Regions from separate parts of the Homo sapiens genome. Here all the other regions are linked to region 1. Evidence: fine-mapped expression QTL. A gene starts in region 1. Each other region holds a variant in brackets. All regions are shown on one strand. Distances are between the middles of the regions.

Region 1 (5,036 bases):
CTGAAAGTAACTCAGCTGGGCACAGTGGCTCACGCCTGTAATCCCAGCACTTTTGGAGGCCAAGATGGGCAGATCATCTGAGGTCAGGAGTTTGAGACCAGCCTGGCCAACATGGTGAAACCCCATCTCTACTAAAAACACAAAATTAGCCGGGAATGGTGGCACATGCCTGTAATCCCAGCTACTTGGGAGGCTGAGGCAGGAGAATCGCTTGAACCCAGGAGGCGGAGGTTGCAGTGACTCGAGATCGAGCCATTGCACTCCACACTCCAGCATGGGCAACAAGAGTGAAGCTCTGTCTCAAAAAAAAAAAAAAAGAAAGAAAGAAAGAAAGTAACTCAAATGCCAAGGAACAGGAAGATGATTACAGGGGCTATGATGTTGTCAACATGATGGAATAATCACGCAACTATGAAAAAAAACGAAGACTATGAGGAAACATTTAAAGGCATATCAGAACTAAAGGCTTCATGAGGTGGTGGCTCAAGCCTATAATCCCAACACTTTGGAAGGCCAACATGGAAGATCACTTGAGGTCAGGAGTTCAAGACCAGCCTGTGCAACATACCAAATCTCTGTTTTCACAAAAAAAAAATAATAATCATAATTAATCAGGTTTTGTGGCCTGTGCCTGTGGTCCCAGCTACTTGGGAGGCTGAGGTGGGAGGAGGCTTGAGACCAGGAATTTGAGATTTGAGGCTGCAGTAAGCTATGAACACACCACTGCATTCCAGCCTGAGCAAAGGAGCAAGACTGCCTCTTAAAAAAAAAAAAAAAATTAAAGTTAAAAAAGAAATGGGCCAGGTGCAGTGGCTCATGCCTATAATCCCAGCACTTTGGGAGGCCGAGGCGGGTAGATCACCTGAGGTCGGGAGTTCAAGACCAAGCCTGGCCAACATGGTGAAACCCCGTCTCTACTAAAAATACAAAAAAATTAGCCGGCCGTGGTGGCGGGCACCTGTAATCACAGCTACTCGGGAGGCTGAGGCAGGAGAATCCCTTTAACCTGGGAGGTGGAGGTTGCAGTGAGCAAAGATTGTGCCACTGAACTCCAGCCTGGGCAACAAAAGTGAAACTGTGTCTCAAAATAAATAAATAAATAAATGGATTTTTCCCTTTTGTAAACAGTAAATCACATCAGAGATATGACAGGCTTGATAGAGCAGAATATAGTGGGAAAAGCATGGCACTGGAGTCCAACAGAAATATCCCGACACCTGGCAGGCACTCACTCACACTAAGGAGTTACCCAATAAGCCTCAATTTCATCATCTGTAAATAAAAAAATAAAACTCACCTACCAAGTAAGTAGATGCCCCATAATAAAGAGTATTAAAATTAAAATCGAGATACTAGAAATTGATGATTATTTTCTCTTGATGGAAAGGTTGCAGGCAGGTTTCTTCGACAAAACGTGAAATACAAGACATTTATGTTAGCCAATTTTCTCTTATCACAATTATTGGAAAAAAATAAGTAATGACCTATTAAAATATTAATTTTAGGCACGTTTAATGTAACTTATTGATTTGATAAATATTATAGCCAAAATACAAAAATTCTGAAAAAGAGAAGGTAGAAATCCACAATACTCTAAGGCCATATTACCACTGTCACGATTTGGTGTACTTCCGGGCCTTCTTCCTTTCAGAACTGTAATCATGTCGCATAAGCCATTTGCATCCTGTTGATTTTCTCCGTTTAAGTCCAAACTGGAAGCATTTTTCCATTTAGTCTTCATAATCCTCACTTCTAACGATTGCATAACTGTCTACTCAAAACCGCTGCCCACAAGTAGCACTTAATAAACACTTTTAATGAAGGAGCAAATGCACACACCGTTATCGACCAAATCATTCCCCACTTACACCTTTTTCATGGAAAATGCCTGTGTGTTTTCATGCGAATCTCGTTTTCCACAAAGCTAGACTGTTCTATTAAAATAATAGAGTCTACATTCTATATTGGCAAATGCATGGCAAGAGAGGAAATAAACACGATGTTTTGTTTACCAGCAACAAATCTCCCCCAAAGAAATCTGAATCACGATGGAAAAACAAAACAAACTTGTGGGCTGGCTTTGCTGTCGTCCGGGTGGGTGGAGGAAAGACACGGCATATAAGCAAATGGTAAAAATTTCAAACAGATCAGGACAAACAGAATCCCTCGCCGGTAGCGACCGCGGTCACCAGTTTCTTGTCCTTTTTTTTTTTAACTTTTTTTTTTTTTAACCCAGAGATGCAAAGGGCTCATCCTTCCTGTACATTCGTCCAGGGAAGTCTGATTCATACATGACCGGCACCTGTGTGCACACCCACAGCTCCCTCTGCACCGCGTTTCGCCCTCGCTCCCGGGACGCTCCCACCGCAGCACCCACCGGTCAGCCCCGGCCATTAACTACGGCTCTGGGGCGTTCCCTGGCACTGCGCGCCGTCCTTCACCTCACACAATCTACCCCAGACGGGCGTCCGTCTCCCGACTCTGGGGAGACCACCACGATTTCGAGAGTACGGGCACCGGTTAGGATTTTCCTGCAGAACAGGCACCGCGAAGCTGCCCCGCTAAGCCGGCGCCGCGGCCCTCCCGAGAGTGCCCCCTCCGTCTCGGCCGTGGCACTGGGGCCAGGGGCTCCGGCCCCCTCGCGTCCTCGCTGGGGGACCCTGGGATCCCGAGACCCGGGCGCCCGGCTTCCCACGCCCGCCGGCCCGGCTCGCTCACCATTGGAGCGGCTGCCCGACTCGTTCTTGCAGTAGCCGCAGCGGTAGAAGTCCTCGCTAGGGAAATAGTCCACGACGCTGGGCGAACCCCCCGCCCAGAAAGCCATGGCCTCGGCCCCGCGAACGCTCAGCCGCCCGGCCCCGCGTCGCTAGCGCGGCCGCCGCCGCCACCCCACAATGCAGCGCGCCGCCCGGGAGCCTCCCGAGGCTCGCGCGAAGCCACTCGGGCGCCCGCAGGCCCGGCCGGCCCGGCGCCTCTTGGAGCTGACGCCGCCCGCGCCATCTTGACCGAGGGCAGCTTTCCACTATTTCCGTTCCTTCTCCATAAGGGGCCGCCGTCGTCAGTGAGGGTGAGGCGGAGAGACAGAGCGGGAAGGGAAACAGGATGGGGAGAGTCAAGAGGGGAAGGGAAGCGGGAGTCGGGGTGCGAGCCTGCCCTTTCCCCCGCCGAGGGCCTGTGCGGGGCGCGGCGGCCGCGCCAACTCCGGCGTCGGGAACACTCACCGCAGGACGCTTTGCCCTCCTTGGAATCGCAGTAGCCGCAGTGGTAGCCGGCCCTGAGGCCCTTGTATTCCACCACCGACGCCATGGCCGCCGCGAGGGTCCGCTCGGGCCGACCACGCCTCTTGGCGCCCGGGGCCGACCTCGGCGAAGCGCTGGGGCCCGCGGCGGGAGGGGTGGAGAGCGAAGCCTGGCGCGGGGACCCGTGGGCGGGGATGGTGGTCGTGTCCCCAAGCCCTGCGTTTGGGCCGGTGCTTCCCACAGCTGTGCGTTATCAGCCCCATTTCACAGGTAAGGAAACTGAGGACCGGAGGTTGTGATTATCCCAAAGTCATTCCCGGCGGGTCTCGGATTGAAAGTCAGGCCGCCCCTGGCCACCGTGTAAGTGACTTGCTGGAGCTGCTTCCAGACCAGCTGGCACGCACTCCAGTGCCCTGAATACAAGAACACAAGCAGGTATTCCGTGAATGGCGAGGGTTCGCAAATTAAAGAACTCTTAACGGCTTTTAAAGGAAACAACTGTCAGCTAGAGACAGTTGCTGTCTTGTACCACTATAAGTCCGGTGCCTCATACGATTTTTAATGAGATGCTGGAAATACAGGGTTTGTTTGTTTTTTTTAACTCTACAGTCCAAACAAAACAGTTTTACAGGCTGAATCCAGCCCATGGGCCTCCATTTTGCAACCACTATTTTAAGGAAGATTTAAGGAATAAGAGTCTAGGGCAAAATATAAAATTGAGGCTCATGCCTGTAATCCCAGCACTTTGGGAGGCCGAGGCGGGCGTATCATGAGGTCAGGAGATTGAGACCATCCTGGCTAACACGTGAAACCCCGTCTCTACTAAAAATACAAAAAATCAGCCTGGCGTGGTGGTGGGCGCCTGTAGTCCCAGCTAGTCGGGAGGCTGAGGCAGGAGAATGGTGTGAACCCGGGAGGCGGAGCTTGCAGTGAGCCGAGATCACGCCGCTGCACTCCAGCCTGTGTGACAGAGCAAGACTCCATCTCAAAAAAATTTTTTAAAAAATGAGTTCCAGGGGCGGGCGCGGTGGCTCACGCCTGTAATCCCAGCACTTTGGGAGGCCGAGGCGGGTGGATCACGAGGTCAGGAGATAAGAGACCATCCTGGCTAACATGGTGAAACCCCTTCTCTACTAAAAAATACAAAAAATTAGCGGGACGTGGTGGCACGCGCCTGTAGTCCCAGCTACTCGGGAGGCTGAGGCAGGAGAATGGCGTGAACCCGGGAGGCAGAGCTTGCAGTGAGCAGAGATCGCGTCACTGCACTCCAGCCTGGGCGAAAGAGCGAGACTCCATCTCAAAAAAAAAAAAAAAGAGTTCCAACAAGGTAATATGCCTTATCTTTCCCTCTGCGTGCACAGATAATTTAAGCCTGTCTGTCCTCATAGTTTTCCCAGTCAACAATAAAGCTGATGATACAATATTGTTTTAAGTGTGTTTAAAAAAGTGAAATGAAACTCAGAGAAATAGAAATAAATTTTTGAGGTGAGTTTTGACATTCTTGACCCCAAGGGCCTGTGTTAGATATGTACCTAGCTGAAGGAGGTTTCTTGGTGGCCTGGTGACTTGTTGAAGGGGGCCAGCCCCTCCACACCTGTGGGTGTTTCTCGTCAGGTGGGACGAGAGACTGAGAAAAAAAGTAAGACACAGAGACAAAGTGTAGAGAACAGTGGGCCCAGAGGACCAGGGCTCAGCATACGGAGGACCCGCGCCAGCACTGGTCTCTGAGTTCCCTCAGTATTTATTGATCACTATCTCTACCATCTCGGTGAGGGGGATGTGGCAGGACTATAGAGT
Region 2 (5,036 bases), 160 kb after region 1:
CACCACCGTCCCAGGAGCGAGAGCACCCCTCGTCCTCCATGCCCTTTGCCGAGTGTCCCCCGGAAGGTTGCTTGGCAAGTCCAGCAGCGGCACCTGAAGATGGTCCTCAGACTCAGTCTCCCAGGAGGGAACCTGCCCCAAATGCCCCAGGAGACATCGCGGCGGCATTTCCCGCTGAGAGGGACAGCTCTACTCCATACCAAGAGATTGCTGCCGTCCCCAGTGCTGGAAGAGAGAGACAGCCGAAGGAAGAAGGACAGAAGTCCTCCTTCTCCTTCTCCAGTGGCATCGACCAGTCACCTGGAATGTCGCCAGTACCCCTCAGAGAGCCAATGAAGGCACCGCTGTGTGGAGAGGGGGACCAGCCTGGTGGTTTTGAGTCCCAAGAGAAAGAGGCTGCAGGTGGCTTTCCCCCTGCAGAGTCCAGGCAGGGGGTGGCTTCTGTGCAAGTGACCCCTGAGGCCCCTGCTGCAGCCCAGCAGGGCACAGAAAGCTCAGCGGTCTTGGAGAAGTCCCCCCTAAAACCCATGGCCCCGATCCCACAAGATCCAGCCCCAAGAGCCTCAGACAGAGAAAGAGGCCAAGGGGAGGCGCCGCCTCAGTATTTAACAGATGACTTGGAATTCCTCAGGGCCTGCCATCTCCCTAGGAGCAATTCAGGGGCTGCCCCAGAAGCAGAAGTGAATGCCGCTTCCCAGGAGAGCTGCCAGCAGCCAGTGGGAGCATATCTGCCGCACGCAGAGCTGCCCTGGGGCTTGCCAAGTCCTGCCCTGGTGCCAGAGGCTGGGGGCTCTGGGAAGGAGGCTCTGGACACCATTGATGTTCAGGGTCACCCACAGACAGGGATGCGAGGAACCAAGCCCAATCAAGTTGTCTGTGTGGCAGCAGGCGGCCAGCCCGAAGGGGGTTTGCCTGTGAGCCCTGAACCTTCCCTGCTCACTCCGACTGAGGAAGCACATCCAGCTTCAAGCCTCGCTTCATTCCCAGCTGCTCAGATTCCTATTGCTGTAGAAGAACCTGGATCATCATCCAGGGAATCAGTTTCCAAGGCTGGGATGCCAGTTTCTGCAGATGCAGCCAAAGAGGTGGTGGATGCAGGGTTGGTGGGACTGGAGAGGCAGGTGTCAGATCTTGGAAGCAAGGGAGAGCATCCAGAAGGGGACCCTGGAGAGGTTCCTGCCCCATCACCCCAGGAGAGGGGAGAGCACTTGAACACGGAGCAAAGCCATGAGGTCCAACCAGGAGTACCACCCCCTCCTCTTCCCAAGGAGCAAAGCCATGAGGTCCAACCAGGAGCACCACCCCCTCCTCTTCCCAAGGCACCAAGTGAAAGTGCCAGAGGGCCACCGGGGCCAACGGATGGAGCCAAGGTCCATGAAGATTCCACAAGCCCAGCCGTGGCTAAAGAAGGAAGCAGATCACCTGGTGACAGCCCTGGAGGAAAGGAGGAAGCCCCAGAGCCACCTGATGGTGGAGACCCAGGGAACCTGCAAGGAGAGGACTCTCAGGCTTTCAGCAGCAAGCGTGATCCAGAAGTAGGCAAAGATGAGCTTTCAAAGCCAAGCAGTGATGCAGAGAGCAGAGACCATCCCAGCTCACACTCAGCACAGCCACCCAGAAAGGGGGGTGCTGGGCACACGGACGGGCCCCACTCTCAGACAGCAGAGGCTGATGCATCTGGCCTACCACACAAGCTGGGTGAGGAGGACCCCGTCCTGCCCCCTGTGCCAGATGGAGCTGGTGAGCCCACTGTTCCCGAAGGAGCCATCTGGGAGGGGTCAGGATTGCAGCCCAAATGTCCTGACACCCTTCAGAGCAGGGAAGGATTGGGAAGAATGGAGTCTTTCCTGACTTTAGAATCAGAGAAATCAGATTTTCCACCAACTCCTGTTGCAGAGGTTGCACCCAAAGCCCAGGAAGGTGAGAGCACATTGGAAATAAGGAAGATGGGCAGCTGTGATGGGGAGGGCTTGCTGACGTCCCCAGATCAACCCCGCGGGCCGGCGTGTGATGCGTCGAGACAGGAATTTCATGCTGGGGTGCCACATCCCCCCCAGGGGGAGAACTTGGCAGCAGACCTGGGGCTCACGGCACTCATCCTGGACCAAGATCAGCAGGGAATCCCATCCTGCCCAGGGGAAGGCTGGATAAGAGGAGCTGCATCCGAGTGGCCCCTACTATCTTCTGAGAAGCATCTCCAGCCATCCCAGGCACAACCAGAGACATCCATCTTTGACGTGCTCAAGGAGCAGGCCCAGCCACCTGAAAATGGGAAAGAGACTTCTCCAAGCCATCCAGGTTTTAAGGACCAGGGAGCAGATTCTTCCCAAATCCATGTACCTGTGGAACCTCAGGAAGATAACAACTTGCCCACTCATGGAGGACAGGAGCAGGCTTTGGGATCAGAACTTCAAAGTCAGCTCCCCAAAGGCACCCTGTCTGATACTCCAACTTCATCTCCCACTGACATGGTTTGGGAGAGTTCTCTGACAGAAGAGTCAGAATTGTCAGCACCAACGAGACAGAAGTTGCCTGCACTAGGGGAGAAGCGGCCAGAGGGAGCATGCGGTGATGGTCAGTCCTCGAGGGTCTCGCCTCCAGCAGCAGATGTCTTAAAAGACTTTTCTCTTGCAGGGAACTTCAGCAGAAAGGAAACTTGCTGCACTGGGCAGGGGCCAAACAAGTCTCAACAGGCATTGGCTGATGCCTTGGAAGAAGGCAGCCAGCATGAAGAAGCATGTCAAAGGCATCCAGGAGCTTCTGAAGCAGCTGATGGTTGTTCCCCACTCTGGGGCTTGAGTAAGAGGGAGATGGCAAGTGGAAACACAGGGGAGGCCCCACCTTGTCAGCCTGACTCAGTAGCTCTCCTGGATGCAGTTCCCTGCCTGCCAGCCCTGGCGCCC[G/A]CCAGCCCCGGAGTCACACCCACCCAGGATGCCCCAGAGACAGAGGCATGTGATGAAACCCAGGAAGGCAGGCAGCAACCAGTGCCGGCCCCGCAGCAGAAAATGGAGTGCTGGGCCACTTCGGATGCAGAGTCCCCAAAGCTTCTTGCAAGTTTCCCATCAGCTGGGGAGCAAGGTGGTGAAGCCGGGGCTGCTGAGACTGGTGGCAGCGCTGGTGCAGGAGACCCAGGAAAGCAGCAGGCTCCGGAGAAACCTGGAGAAGCTACTTTGAGTTGTGGCCTCCTTCAGACTGAGCACTGCCTTACCTCCGGGGAGGAAGCTTCTACCTCTGCCCTACGTGAGTCCTGCCAAGCTGAGCACCCCATGGCCAGCTGCCAGGATGCCTTGCTGCCAGCCAGAGAGCTGGGTGGGATTCCCAGGAGCACCATGGATTTTTCTACACACCAGGCTGTCCCAGACCCAAAGGAGCTCCTGCTGTCTGGGCCACCAGAAGTGGCTGCTCCTGACACCCCTTACCTGCATGTCGACAGTGCTGCCCAGAGAGGAGCAGAAGACAGTGGAGTGAAAGCTGTTTCCTCTGCAGACCCCAGAGCTCCTGGCGAAAGCCCCTGTCCTGTAGGGGAGCCCCCACTTGCCTTGGAAAATGCTGCCTCCTTGAAGCTGTTTGCTGGCTCCCTCGCCCCCCTGTTGCAACCAGGAGCTGCAGGTGGGGAAATCCCTGCAGTGCAAGCCAGCAGTGGTAGTCCCAAAGCCAGAACCACTGAGGGACCAGTGGACTCCATGCCATGCCTGGACCGGATGCCACTTCTGGCCAAGGGCAAGCAGGCAACAGGGGAAGAGAAAGCAGCAACAGCTCCAGGTGCAGGTGCCAAGGCCAGTGGGGAGGGCATGGCAGGTGATGCAGCAGGAGAGACAGAGGGCAGCATGGAGAGGATGGGAGAGCCTTCCCAGGACCCAAAGCAGGGCACATCAGGTGGTGTGGACACAAGCTCTGAGCAAATCGCCACCCTCACTGGCTTCCCAGACTTCAGGGAGCACATCGCCAAGATCTTCGAGAAGCCTGTGCTCGGAGCCCTGGCCACACCTGGAGAAAAGGCAGGAGCTGGGAGGAGTGCAGTGGGTAAAGACCTCACCAGGCCATTGGGCCCAGAGAAGCTTCTAGATGGGCCTCCAGGAGTGGATGTCACCCTTCTCCCTGCACCTCCTGCTCGACTCCAGGTGGAGAAGAAGCAACAGTTGGCTGGAGAGGCTGAGATTTCCCATCTGGCTCTGCAAGATCCAGCTTCAGACAAGCTTCTGGGTCCAGCAGGGCTGACCTGGGAGCGGAACTTGCCAGGTGCCGGTGTGGGGAAGGAGATGGCAGGTGTCCCACCCACACTGAGGGAAGACGAGAGGCCAGAGGGGCCTGGGGCAGCCTGGCCAGGCCTGGAAGGCCAGGCTTACTCACAGCTGGAGAGGAGCAGGCAGGAATTAGCTTCAGGTCTTCCTTCACCAGCAGCTACTCAGGAGCTCCCTGTGGAGAGAGCTGCTGCCTTCCAGGTGGCTCCCCATAGCCATGGAGAAGAGGCCGTGGCCCAAGACAGAATTCCTTCTGGAAAGCAGCACCAGGAAACATCTGCCTGCGACAGTCCACATGGAGAAGATGGTCCCGGGGACTTTGCTCACACAGGGGTTCCAGGACATGTGCCAAGGTCCACGTGTGCCCCTTCTCCTCAGAGGGAGGTTTTGACTGTGCCTGAGGCCAACAGTGAGCCCTGGACCCTTGACACGCTTGGGGGTGAAAGGAGACCCGGAGTCACTGCTGGCATCTTGGAAATGCGAAATGCCCTGGGCAACCAGAGCACCCCTGCACCACCAACTGGAGAAGTGGCAGACACTCCCCTGGAGCCTGGCAAGGTGGCAGGCGCTGCTGGGGAAGCAGAGGGTGACATCACCCTGAGCACAGCTGAGACACAGGCATGTGCGTCCGGTGATCTGCCTGAAGCAGGTACTACGAGGACATTCTCCGTTGTGGCAGGTGACTTGGTGCTGCCAGGAAGCTGTCAGGACCCAGCCTGCTCTGACAAGGCTCCGGGGATGGAGGGTACAGCTGCCCTTCATGGGGACAGCCCAGCCAGGCCCCAGCAGGCTAAG
Region 3 (5,036 bases), 38 kb after region 1:
TACACATTACATTTTATAATGAGGGGAGGTGGAACAGCTACTTTTGACATTTCTCACTTGAATGGCATATTTCATTTTGTAACAAAAAAAATCCCCATCTTTTAAAGATAAAAATGAAAACGTTAACTTCAAAGTTTTCACATGAAATTTCTAAAGGGGAGAAGAATCCTCATAAAATGCATATGTATTTATTCAAATATTACATACAGCTGAAATTGCCTTTTAAATACAAGTAACCTCAGTGAACAGATAAATACAAATTGCTCCACTTTGAATGGTGTTACACTTACGATCTTCTCGAAAATATGTCTGCAACAATCCCAAGATTCTTTCTACTTCTTTCTCTGTTGCTTCTTGATGAGATTCTTCCATTCTTCTTAACTGAAAAAAGTCATTATCAAGCTGACAGACCTACTTACTGGCCTATTAACGTTTTCTTCTCTCTTGCACACCCAAACTCCTTTTCTTCTCTCTTGCACACCCGAACTCTTTTTTTTTTTTGAGACAGGGTCTTGCTTTGCCACCCAGGCTAGAGTGCAGTTGCATGATCTCGGCTCACTGTAACCTCAGACTCCTGTGCTCAAGGGATCCTACCACCTCAGCTTCTTGAGTAGCTGGCACTAGAAGCGTGCACCACTACACCTGGCTAATTTTTTTTTTTTTAATTCATTCTACCTTGTCTAAGACACCTGGCTAATTAAAAAAAATTTTTTTAGATATGGGGTCTTGCTGACCATCCTGGCTAACACGGTGAAACCCCATCTCTACTAAAAATACAAAAACTTAGCCAGGTGTGGTGACAGGCGCCTGTACTCCCAGCTACTCAGGAGGCTGAGGCAGGAGAATGGCATGAACCCGGGAGGCGGAGCTTGCAGTGAGCCGACATCGCGCCTGTAATCCCTGCGCTGTAGGAGGCTGAGGCAGGTGGATCACAAGGTCAGGAGTTCGAGACCAGCCTGGCCATTATGGTGAAACCGTCTCTATTAAAAAACACCAAAATTAGCCGGGCATGGTGGTGCCTGCCTGTAATCCCAGCTACTTGGGAGGCTGAGGCAGGAGAATGGCTTGAACCCAGCAGGCGGAGGTTGCAGTGAGCCGAGATCGCGCCACTGCACTCCAGCCCGGGTGATAGGGCAAGACTCTGTCTCAAAAAAAATTATGGTTTAAAAAAAAACAGATTTTCTGGTTTCAGTAACTTTTTTTTTTTTTTTTTGAGATGGAGTCTTGCTCTGTGGCCCAGGCTGGAGTGCAGTGGTGCCATCTCGGCTCACTGCAACCTCCGCTTCCCAGGTTCAAGCAATTCTCCTACCTCAGCCTCCAGAGTAGCTGGGATTAGAGGCACCCACCACCACATCTGGCTAATTTTTTGTACTTTTTAGTAGAGACAGGGTTTCACCATGTTGGCCAGGCTGGTTTCTAACTCCTGACCTCAGGTGGATCTGCCCGCCTTGGCCTCCCAAAGTGCTGGGATTACAGGCGTAAGCCACCACACTCGGGCAACCTTTGTTTTTTTTGAGACGGACTCTCGCTCTGTCGCCCAGGCTGGAGTACAGTGGCATGATCTCGGCTCAGTGCAACCTCTGCCTCCTAGATTCCTAATTCTCCTGCGTCAGCCTCCCGAATAGCCCGGACTACAGGCACCTGCCACCATACCTAGCTAATTTCTGTATTTTTAGTAGAGACGGGGTTTCCCCGTATTGGCCGGGCTGGTCTCGAACTCCTGACCTTGTGATCTGCCCGCCTCGGCCTCCCAAAGTGCTGGGATTACAGGCGTAAGCCACTGTGCCTGGCCTCAGTAACATTTTCATATCAATTTCTTAATAGAATAGTAACATTACCAGATTAACCATTTTCAGGTTGAACATAAAATAGCAAAATACAAAAGGGCGGTTTAGAAACAGTGGTTCTCGAGTGGGTGTGACTTTCCCCCCACCTCCCCAGGGAACATTTGTTGTCACATGTAGACATTTTTGGTTGTCACAACTCAGGGGTCGGGGGGGCTATTAGCATATAACAGGTAGAGGCTGGGGATGCCGCTAAGCATCCTACAATGCGCAGGACAGCTCCCCAAACCAACATTATCCAGCCGTAAATGTTGACAGTGCTGAGGTTGACCCTGGCTTCGGAGAACTGATCAAAACTAGAGAAATGAGTTAAAACAAAGACAAGCAGCCAATCCAATAAAATGCTTAAAGGCTTAAATAAAATGATTATTTAAGTGACAAAACCTGGCTCCAGACCCGCACACTTAGAAAAAATGGCCAAATTGCATGCACATTATTTTAACAGCTATTTTAACTTTAATGTGTTTTTTTAAAAGCAACATTTTAAAACAAACCTGGGCAGGCATTGCCCTCTCCTCTTGTATCACAGGAACTTTTCTTGGACGATCAACTCGTGGCTTTGGCACAGGGCACTCTCCGTATATTGAACCCAACCTAATGAAAAGTATGCTTTCATTTATTTTTTTTGCCTGTTGTTTGTTAAACAAACTAACTTTACTAACTAAAAGTAGTTTGCATGGTATAGTCAAATTCAGACCAGACATCAGTGATATACAAGCTGACATCAGAGTAAGACTCTTGATAAGGTTTGTGACAGCCTTTCTGCCTTCTTTGTATTTCTAAAAGAACTCCTAGGAGCTTTACTCAACCACAGATACCTCCTCAGACACCTACATACTGCCCTGTAAAGTAGGCCAGTGAATATGCCTGTGACATCTTCCCAC[C/A]ACCCAACCTATTGTTTTGCAAAGCCAACTTCTAAGAGCAGGGGAAGGATGAACATGTATGTGGGGAAGCTCCAGTGGGGTCAGAAGACTTTGATCTGGGGAGGCCAAGGCAGAGGCTCCCAGCCCAGGACTACAGAACACATCTGTCTTAGGATAACAGGGCAAGTCACAGCCATGGGATTCCTTTTCCTTCTGGATTCTGCCCTCATGCAGACTTGGGTTACAGTAATAGATGTAAGTCTGCATCATGTAGAGATCAAAGCCCCAAGAATAAGGCTCATGTGGTCCCTACCCTTGAGGAGACAAAAATATACGATGTAGATGGACAGCTGCATTATGCACACAGATCCATTTCAATATAACATGGTGGGCTACTCTGGGAACACTCCTGCTCCACAAGGAGCAGTATAAAAAAATAAATTAATCAAATTTTAAAAAAGCAACATGGTAGATCCTGGGCGCTTAGAGAGTACTGCTCAAGTGCTATGAGAACACTTGGGCAGAGATATCTACCCAGACATGGGAGTGACGTGGTTGAGAAATCTGATCCTACACTGCTAACACCTCTGTCTGGAGAAGTTGCTGGAGGCTTCCAAGATGGGGCCTGTGGGATAAACAAACTTTACCGAATGGAAAAGATGAAAAGGAATTGGAGGCCAAGAGAACAGCAAGTACAAAGACACAGAGTTTTAAGTACTTCATTGTGGCTGGAAATTGGGCTGGATGATGAGATAAAGTTTAAGGCTTTATCTTTATAACCTAGGATTTATGAGTTTAGTACAATAGCAAAAAACAAAGATTTAGACTTTATCCTAAGATGAAGAAGTTTGGACTACATCCTATTAAATAGAACATACACAAATGGCTCTGGGCACCTGAGTTACCTGAAGTCTTATTAAAAATAGATGCCAGACCCCACACCACACTACTACATTGGCATCTCCAAGGCCTTCTACCCGAGCTACTATCAATCTCAATGGTTTTTAGAAAGACAAATTAGAAAAGACAAAAGCCCAGGAGCTATACCACTTAAAGAAGGACTGAACAACTCAGATGGCTACCCTAAAGTATTTACTGGGCAACAAAACCAGTATACTTGAAGGTCCTCTTAGAGAAGAGCCAGTAAGAGCTGTTCTTAATTTCTCCATAGGACCATGCCAGGAAGTTAAGACAGAAGCCAACTTCATTCAAATATAAAGAAATCTTTTTTTTAAATCAGAGTTCTATCTAAAAAATGAACTGGACAGTTTATGTGGCAGTGACAAGTAATCTTCAAATACAAGTCAGTGGTCATCTAACAGGGTATTATAATAAATGTCACTTTAGACGTTGGGAGACTCATAAGATACCCTCAGTAGGAGGTATCATCCTCCTATATGATAAGGATTTTAAAGATGATAAACCCAGAGTCTCATGAGCTAGAAGCAAAGGAGCCAGGAGAGCACTGGTAAAGAGGTTCTGGCCTTTTCTGCTAAAGCAGAATGAGAGATCCTTTAAGGTTCCATCCACATCTAGAGTTTATGGACTTTTTTTTCTTTTTTGAGACAGGGTCTCACTGTCAGCCAGGCCGGAGTGCAATGGCGCAATCTCAGCTCACTGCAATCTCTGCCTCCCAGGCTCAAGTGATCCTCCCACCTCAGCCTCCCAAGTAGCCAGGACCACAGGCATGGGCCACTACAGCGGGCTAATTTTTTGTATTTTTGGTAGAGATGGGTTCTCGCCATGTTGCCCAGGCTGATCTTGAATTCCTGAGCTCAGATGATCTACCTGCATCCACCTGCCAAAGTGCCGGGATTACAGGCATGAGCCACCACACCCGGCCTAGTGTTTATGAACTTTCATATCAAAGTTTCAAAAGTCTCCAAACAACGGCATCATGACTGTCACCTCTACAATACCAAATAATCTTTGTCCCTACAAGAAAAAGCAATTTAAGGTTCACAAATAACTGGTCTGTTGGATTTTTAAAATAATCTTACAGAAAGTGGAATGTATGGGTTTTATTAAAGGTGTTTTCTGCTGTTCTGCCTGTTATCTTCCAGGAGTCATAGACTATGAATTCAAAATCAGGACTATCTTCATCACGGATGAGTTCTTCAGCTTCTAGCGGATTTACACCCATATGTGTGAGCTACAAAAATGAAGGAAAACAAAAAACCCAGTTAAGCCACATGCAATCATTTTCCACATCCAATAATCCGCATCACTCAACCTTTAAGAGGCCAGACGCAAAGCCAGCTTTCAGTGTCTTAACATGCTGGCTAAATTTCTTACTGTGAAGATAACTTTACAGTTAAAGTCCTGCTTC
Region 4 (5,036 bases), 270 kb after region 1:
CATTTTGACCTTGATGTTGGTTTTAGAAAGAAATGGGTGGAATTCTTTTTATCCGCCGTGGGTTCGAGCAGCCCGTTGTTTTGGAAAGGATGTACACTCCCGGAGCTTTGTTCCTAAACCAGCAAACCCCCGTGCTGGGACAAGGGGGCAGGACAGTTTTAATGAGAGCTGATGCCTTTGGTGGAGTCTGCCGAATACTGCTCCCATGTCCCCCGTCTTTGACGGCTCATCAGTCTGCAGCAGTGTCTGGATTTTGCTGAGTCAGTGTAGATGCCAGACTCTGGGAGGATAGTGACGGATATTTCTTTGATTTGAAAGTAGAGAAGAGCCAGGAGGGCTGTCTGTAGTTCTCAGAGCATCGTTTGCATCTCTTCCTTTATTTTGTATGACCAAGCATATAAAACTGTATTTCTCGTAATATTTTTAAAAACTTACCCATAATTTTTAATGGAAAGTGGCTGGATGACAAACACATTGTAATCTCTAGGTCAAATGTGTGATTAAGAATAAACTATTCTGGCCGAGGCGGGCAGATCATGAGGTCAGGAGATGGAGACCATCCTGGCCAATACGGTGAAACCCCATCTCCGTTAAAAATACAAAAAATTAGCTGGGCGTGGTGGCGGGCACCTGTAGTCCCAGCTACTCGGGAGGCTGAGGCAGGAGAATGGTGTGAACCCAGGAGGCGGAGTTTGCAGTGAGCGGAGATCACACCACTGCACTCCAGCCTGGGTGACAGAGCGAGTCCGTCTCAAAAAAAAAAAAAAAAAACAAAAAAACAAAGAATAAACTATGCTTGGCCGGGCATGGTGGCTCACGCCTGTAATCCCAGCACTCTGGGAGGCCAAGGAGGGTGGATCACCTGAGGTCGGGAGTTCGAGACCAGCCTGCCCAACATAGTGAAACCCCGTCTCTACTAAAAATACAGAAATTAGCCAGGCATGGTGCCGCACGCCTGTAGTCCCAGCTACTCAGGAGGCTGAGGCAGGAGAATCGCTTGAACCCGGGAGGTGGAGGTTGCAGTGAGCCGAGACCATGCCACTGCACTCCAGCCTGGGTGACAGAACCGGACTCTGTCTCAAAATAAACAAACAAACAAATGTTTAGAAGAAAATGATAGCATGTTATAGGGCATGTACCATCCCCAGCACCAAGGAGTGTGCGGAGAGGCCACTTGTGGCCACAGGTGCGTCTTCTGGGATTCCCAGTCCGACATCCTGCCAGCTCTGGGATGAATGGGATGCCACTCTGTTCTCTTCTTTGATCCTGTCCTTCTTCCTTCTGCCTAACTTCCTTTCAACAAAGCAGAGAACAATCTCCATTCTTAAAACGAACACGCACAACATCCATCTTTTTCTTAGATGGCAGTTACTAAAAGAATGAGCATTATTGAGGATTAAAAGATAACCCCCACCAGGGAAGGGGATGGAAACGTTAATTGCTGTGGAGTCACAGCCCCTCAGAACCTTGGATTACACCAATTGGAGTGTTTGAACGGGGACTTTATGTTTCTCCTCCTTTGAAAACGGCAGCAAGGCTAGCTGTGTGAGGATTGTACACTCAGGAGACTTACGGTTGGAACTGTGTCTGCTGAAAGCCCCCCTAGCTTGGGCTGTACAAAGATCCATTTGATTTGCTGCCCTGGTTAGAAAACCGCCTCCCAGGCGGAGGGTCCCCTCGTCCATTCTGTAGACCAGCATGGGGCATTACGAAGGCGTGGGAAGGCAGCTGTGCTTGCTAGTGTAGGTGGCTGTAGGAGAAGAAAGATTTGTTCTCTCAACCATAGGAAAGAAGGGTACCAGGGGAAAATCTATTGTTTACTTTCCTCTGCACAGTGCCCGGGATGTTGCGAAAGGTGCTGTGGGAACCACGTGAATTAATACACAACACCTTTGGCTGTGAATAAAGATGGTTTTTCCCCCTGGCAACCTACATTTTATAAAGCACTCACTTGCCCTACATTGGGTCCTACCAGCGTGTCTGGGCTCCCTGGGATGGAAGATGTGTGGGCCAGAGCAGTCCCATGAGCCTGTCCTGAGGGCTGTAGCCTGGACCACACTCCTGAGGCAGAAGATGGGGCAAAGGATTGCACCTGCTGCCAGCTGGGGCGGGCCAGGACTCAGCTCATCTGAACGCAGTTCCCTTATCTGTGAAATGAAGAGGGTGATCTGTGGGTCCCTTCAGATCCTTCCAGCTCCGGCCTCCCGAGGTCCTGTGAAGGGAATGGTTGGCTGATGTACAGTGACCGTGTTATTAGAACTCAAAACCGGCCACCAAGGGTCATAATTACATGTCATGTAATTAAATAATAGCTCCCATTCAAGCATTTGCCTTGTCAGGGCTATGCTAGGTCCTCTGAGTGTTTCATCTCCCACTCAGGTGAGGGAGGATCAGCCGTATGCACACAGCATCCCTGTATAGTGGATGTCTTCCCCTGATTCCCCAGTGACACGCGGAGGTTACGAACCTCATACGCCATCTCACAGCGATAAGGGGACTCTGGTGTCAGAACCCAGGCCTCCCCACTTCCAAGCCCGGCTCCCTTCCATTTGGAACCAGACTGCTCTCTGCGCAGGTACAGTGAGCTGGTGCCTTTGTGCGCCTAGCCTGGGGCAGGCCCTTAGTAGGTGTTGAGTGAAAGTTGTTGCTGGACCTGCTGTTGCTTAGATGTGTGCTGGGGCAGTCCTGCCAGCCTGTCCTGAGAGCTGCAGCCTAGGCCACGCCCCCGAGGCAAAGGATGGGGCAAAGGATTGCGAGTCAGTGGGTGATCAGTGGGGGCGACATGGCAGGAGAGCTGAGGCAGGTCCATTCTGACAGTTGCCCACCTGCCCTTCAGGGACATTGTTCAGCATTGGGGAATGCAGCTTCTTTACTCATTCTTGCTAGGAGATTGCCAAGCCCAGGGAAAGGCCCGTGTTGGGGCCTTGGAGGTAATGGGGGCCTCCCTGTGCCCTGCGTGCCTATACCTTTCCTCTGTCT[C/G]CCAGGACATGGTCCCCAGGCACTGATTGTGGCACTGCACCTGGGGGCCCGAGCCATTGAGCCAAGGGTATACAGATTCACAGCCACCAGATCCAAGCACCAGTGTCCTCGCCAGGCACTCGTTGTGCTCTAAGTGGCTGTTTGTGGACAGCTGTCCTCACATTGACTTGGAATGGAGCTCAGTGCCCAGCCTGGCTGCAGAGCACACAGTGGCTTCCCTTTTCTTTGGGCCCGCCTCTGGTTTTCGTATACACTGTCACCTGCTTTTGTCTCCAAAGAGGCCATACGTGGGTGCTCCCTGTAGCCACGGGAGACTTCCTGGCATGGGGTGGGGCATCCCAGAATCCAGCTGAGGCCCTTCCCAGCCTGGGGCAGGGGCACAGGGGTGGGTGTCACCATGGCGTGTGAAGAGCAGGGGGCTGTGGTTGCCTTTTCCTGACACCTGCTATGACCTGGGCCAGGTGCTTACAGACTCTCCCTCTTCACCCACACAAGAATTCCCTATGACAGCTGATGACAGCACACTGTCTTAGGTCTGATCACACGGCTATCAACGTAACCATAGACCAGGTACCTGTTAGCAACAGAAATGTATTGCTTACAGTTCTGGAGGCTGGGAAGTCCAAGCTCAGGGCACTGGCAGATTTGGTGTCTAGTGAGGACCTGCTTTCTGTTCATAGACAGCACCTCCTCCCTGTGTCCTGACATGGTGAAAGGACACACAGTCTTCCTCAGTCCTCTTTCGTAAGGGCACTAATCCACTCATGAGGACACTGCCCCCATGAGCTCATCACCTCCCAAAGGCCCCACCTCCTGATACCATCACCTTATATGAGGATTTCAACATAGGAATTTCGGGGACACACACATTCGGACCAGAGCACACAGCAAGCTGAGGGCCGAGCCTTTTCAGGCCTGGATCTGGCTGCCACAGGCACTCGGGCCCTCTTGGGCCGGCTGCTCCCTCTTCACAATGTGAGTGTTTCATGGGCCCAGGACCAGGGAACAGGTGAGACCACTGGAGATTCTGATGCAGTCCAGGCAGAGGCTGGCACTGCACCTGGGGGCCCTGGCCATCGAGCCAGGGGTATATGGGTTCACAGCCACCAGATCCAAGCCCCGTTCATCCCAGGCTGGAAGGACGATGGAGAGTTTGGGGCCTGCATAGAGCCAGGTGAGGAGACATGAGAGGATGGCGACCTCACCTGCCCACAGTGGCCACATCTACAGTGAGAGGACGGGCACCTCACCTGCCCACAGTGGCTGTGTTCACATGGGGAGGACAGTTACCTCACCTGCCCACAGTGGCCACATCTACAGTGAGAGGACGGGCACCTCACCTGCCCACAGTGGCTGTGTTCACATGGGGAGGACAGTTACCTCACCTGCCCACAGTGGCTGCGTTCACATGGGGAGGACGGCCACCTCACCTGCCCACAGTGGCCACATCTACAGTGAGAGGACGGCCACCTCACCTGCCCACAGTGGCCACATTTACAGTGAGAGGATGGCCACCTCACCTGCCCACAGTGGCCATGTTCACATGGGGAGGACGGCGACCTCACCTGCCCACAGTGGCCGTGTTCACATGGGGAGGACGGCCACCTCACCTGCCCACAGTGGCCATGTTCACATGGGGAGGACGGCGACCTCACCTGCCCACAGTGGCCACATCTACACTGAGAGGATGGCGACCTCACCTGCCCACAGTGGCCACATCTACACTGAGAGGACGACCACCTCACCTGCGCACAGTGGCTGTGTTCACACGGGGAGGACAGCGACCTCACCCGCCCACAGTGGCCACATCTACAGTGAGAGGACGGCCACCTCACCCGCCCAGAGTGGCCACATCTACAGTGAGAGGACGGCCACCTCACCCGCCCACAGTGGCCACATCTACAGTGAGAGGACGGCCACCTCACCTGCCCACAGTGGCCACATCTACAGTGAGAGGACGGCCACCTCACCTGCCCACAGTGGCCACATCTACAGTCAGAGGACGGCCACCTCACCTGCCCACAGTGGCCACATCTACAGTGAGAGGATGGCCACCT

What was found. PIP is the estimated chance that this variant, and not a neighbour inherited with it, causes the effect. A credible set is the group of variants that fine-mapping cannot tell apart.
Region 2: its variant is the best candidate, but not a certain one, in a credible set for the expression of ATE1 in sun-exposed skin (GTEx, PIP 0.63).
Region 3: its variant is the best candidate, but not a certain one, in a credible set for the expression of ATE1 in tibial artery (GTEx, PIP 0.70).
Region 4: its variant is the best candidate, but not a certain one, in a credible set for the expression of ATE1 in thyroid (GTEx, PIP 0.80).

The regions. Positions count from the first base shown.
Region 1 is chr10:121,925,126-121,930,161 of GRCh38, forward strand. ATE1 (arginyltransferase 1) reads right to left here and starts at 2,906. Exons shown (of 12, transcript NM_001001976.3): 1 at 2,719-2,906. The coding sequence starts at 2,824. It also overlaps the pseudogene ATE1OSP. RefSeq lists enhancers at 2,118-2,267, 2,806-3,672 and silencers at 2,578-2,997, 3,188-3,487.
Region 2 is chr10:122,082,793-122,087,828 of GRCh38, forward strand. TACC2 (transforming acidic coiled-coil containing protein 2) reads left to right here. Exons shown (of 23, transcript NM_206862.4): 4 at 1-5,036. Among named protein-coding and RNA genes, the nearest start is that of TACC2, 96 kb to the left of the region's middle. RefSeq lists an enhancer at 2,674-3,175. The variant G/A (reference allele first, on the strand shown) is at 2,904.
Region 3 is chr10:121,962,948-121,967,983 of GRCh38, forward strand. It overlaps NSMCE4A (NSE4A component of SMC5/6 complex), which reads right to left. Exons shown (of 11, transcript NM_017615.3): 4 at 4,708-4,859; 5 at 2,339-2,438; 6 at 291-381. Among named protein-coding and RNA genes, the nearest start is that of NSMCE4A, 9.8 kb to the right of the region's middle. The variant C/A (reference allele first, on the strand shown) is at 2,729.
Region 4 is chr10:122,196,181-122,201,216 of GRCh38, forward strand. All of the region lies in intron 8 of TACC2 (transforming acidic coiled-coil containing protein 2), which reads left to right. Among named protein-coding and RNA genes, the nearest start is that of BTBD16, 73 kb to the right of the region's middle. RefSeq lists enhancers at 1-322, 3,809-4,754, 4,755-5,036. The variant C/G (reference allele first, on the strand shown) is at 2,980.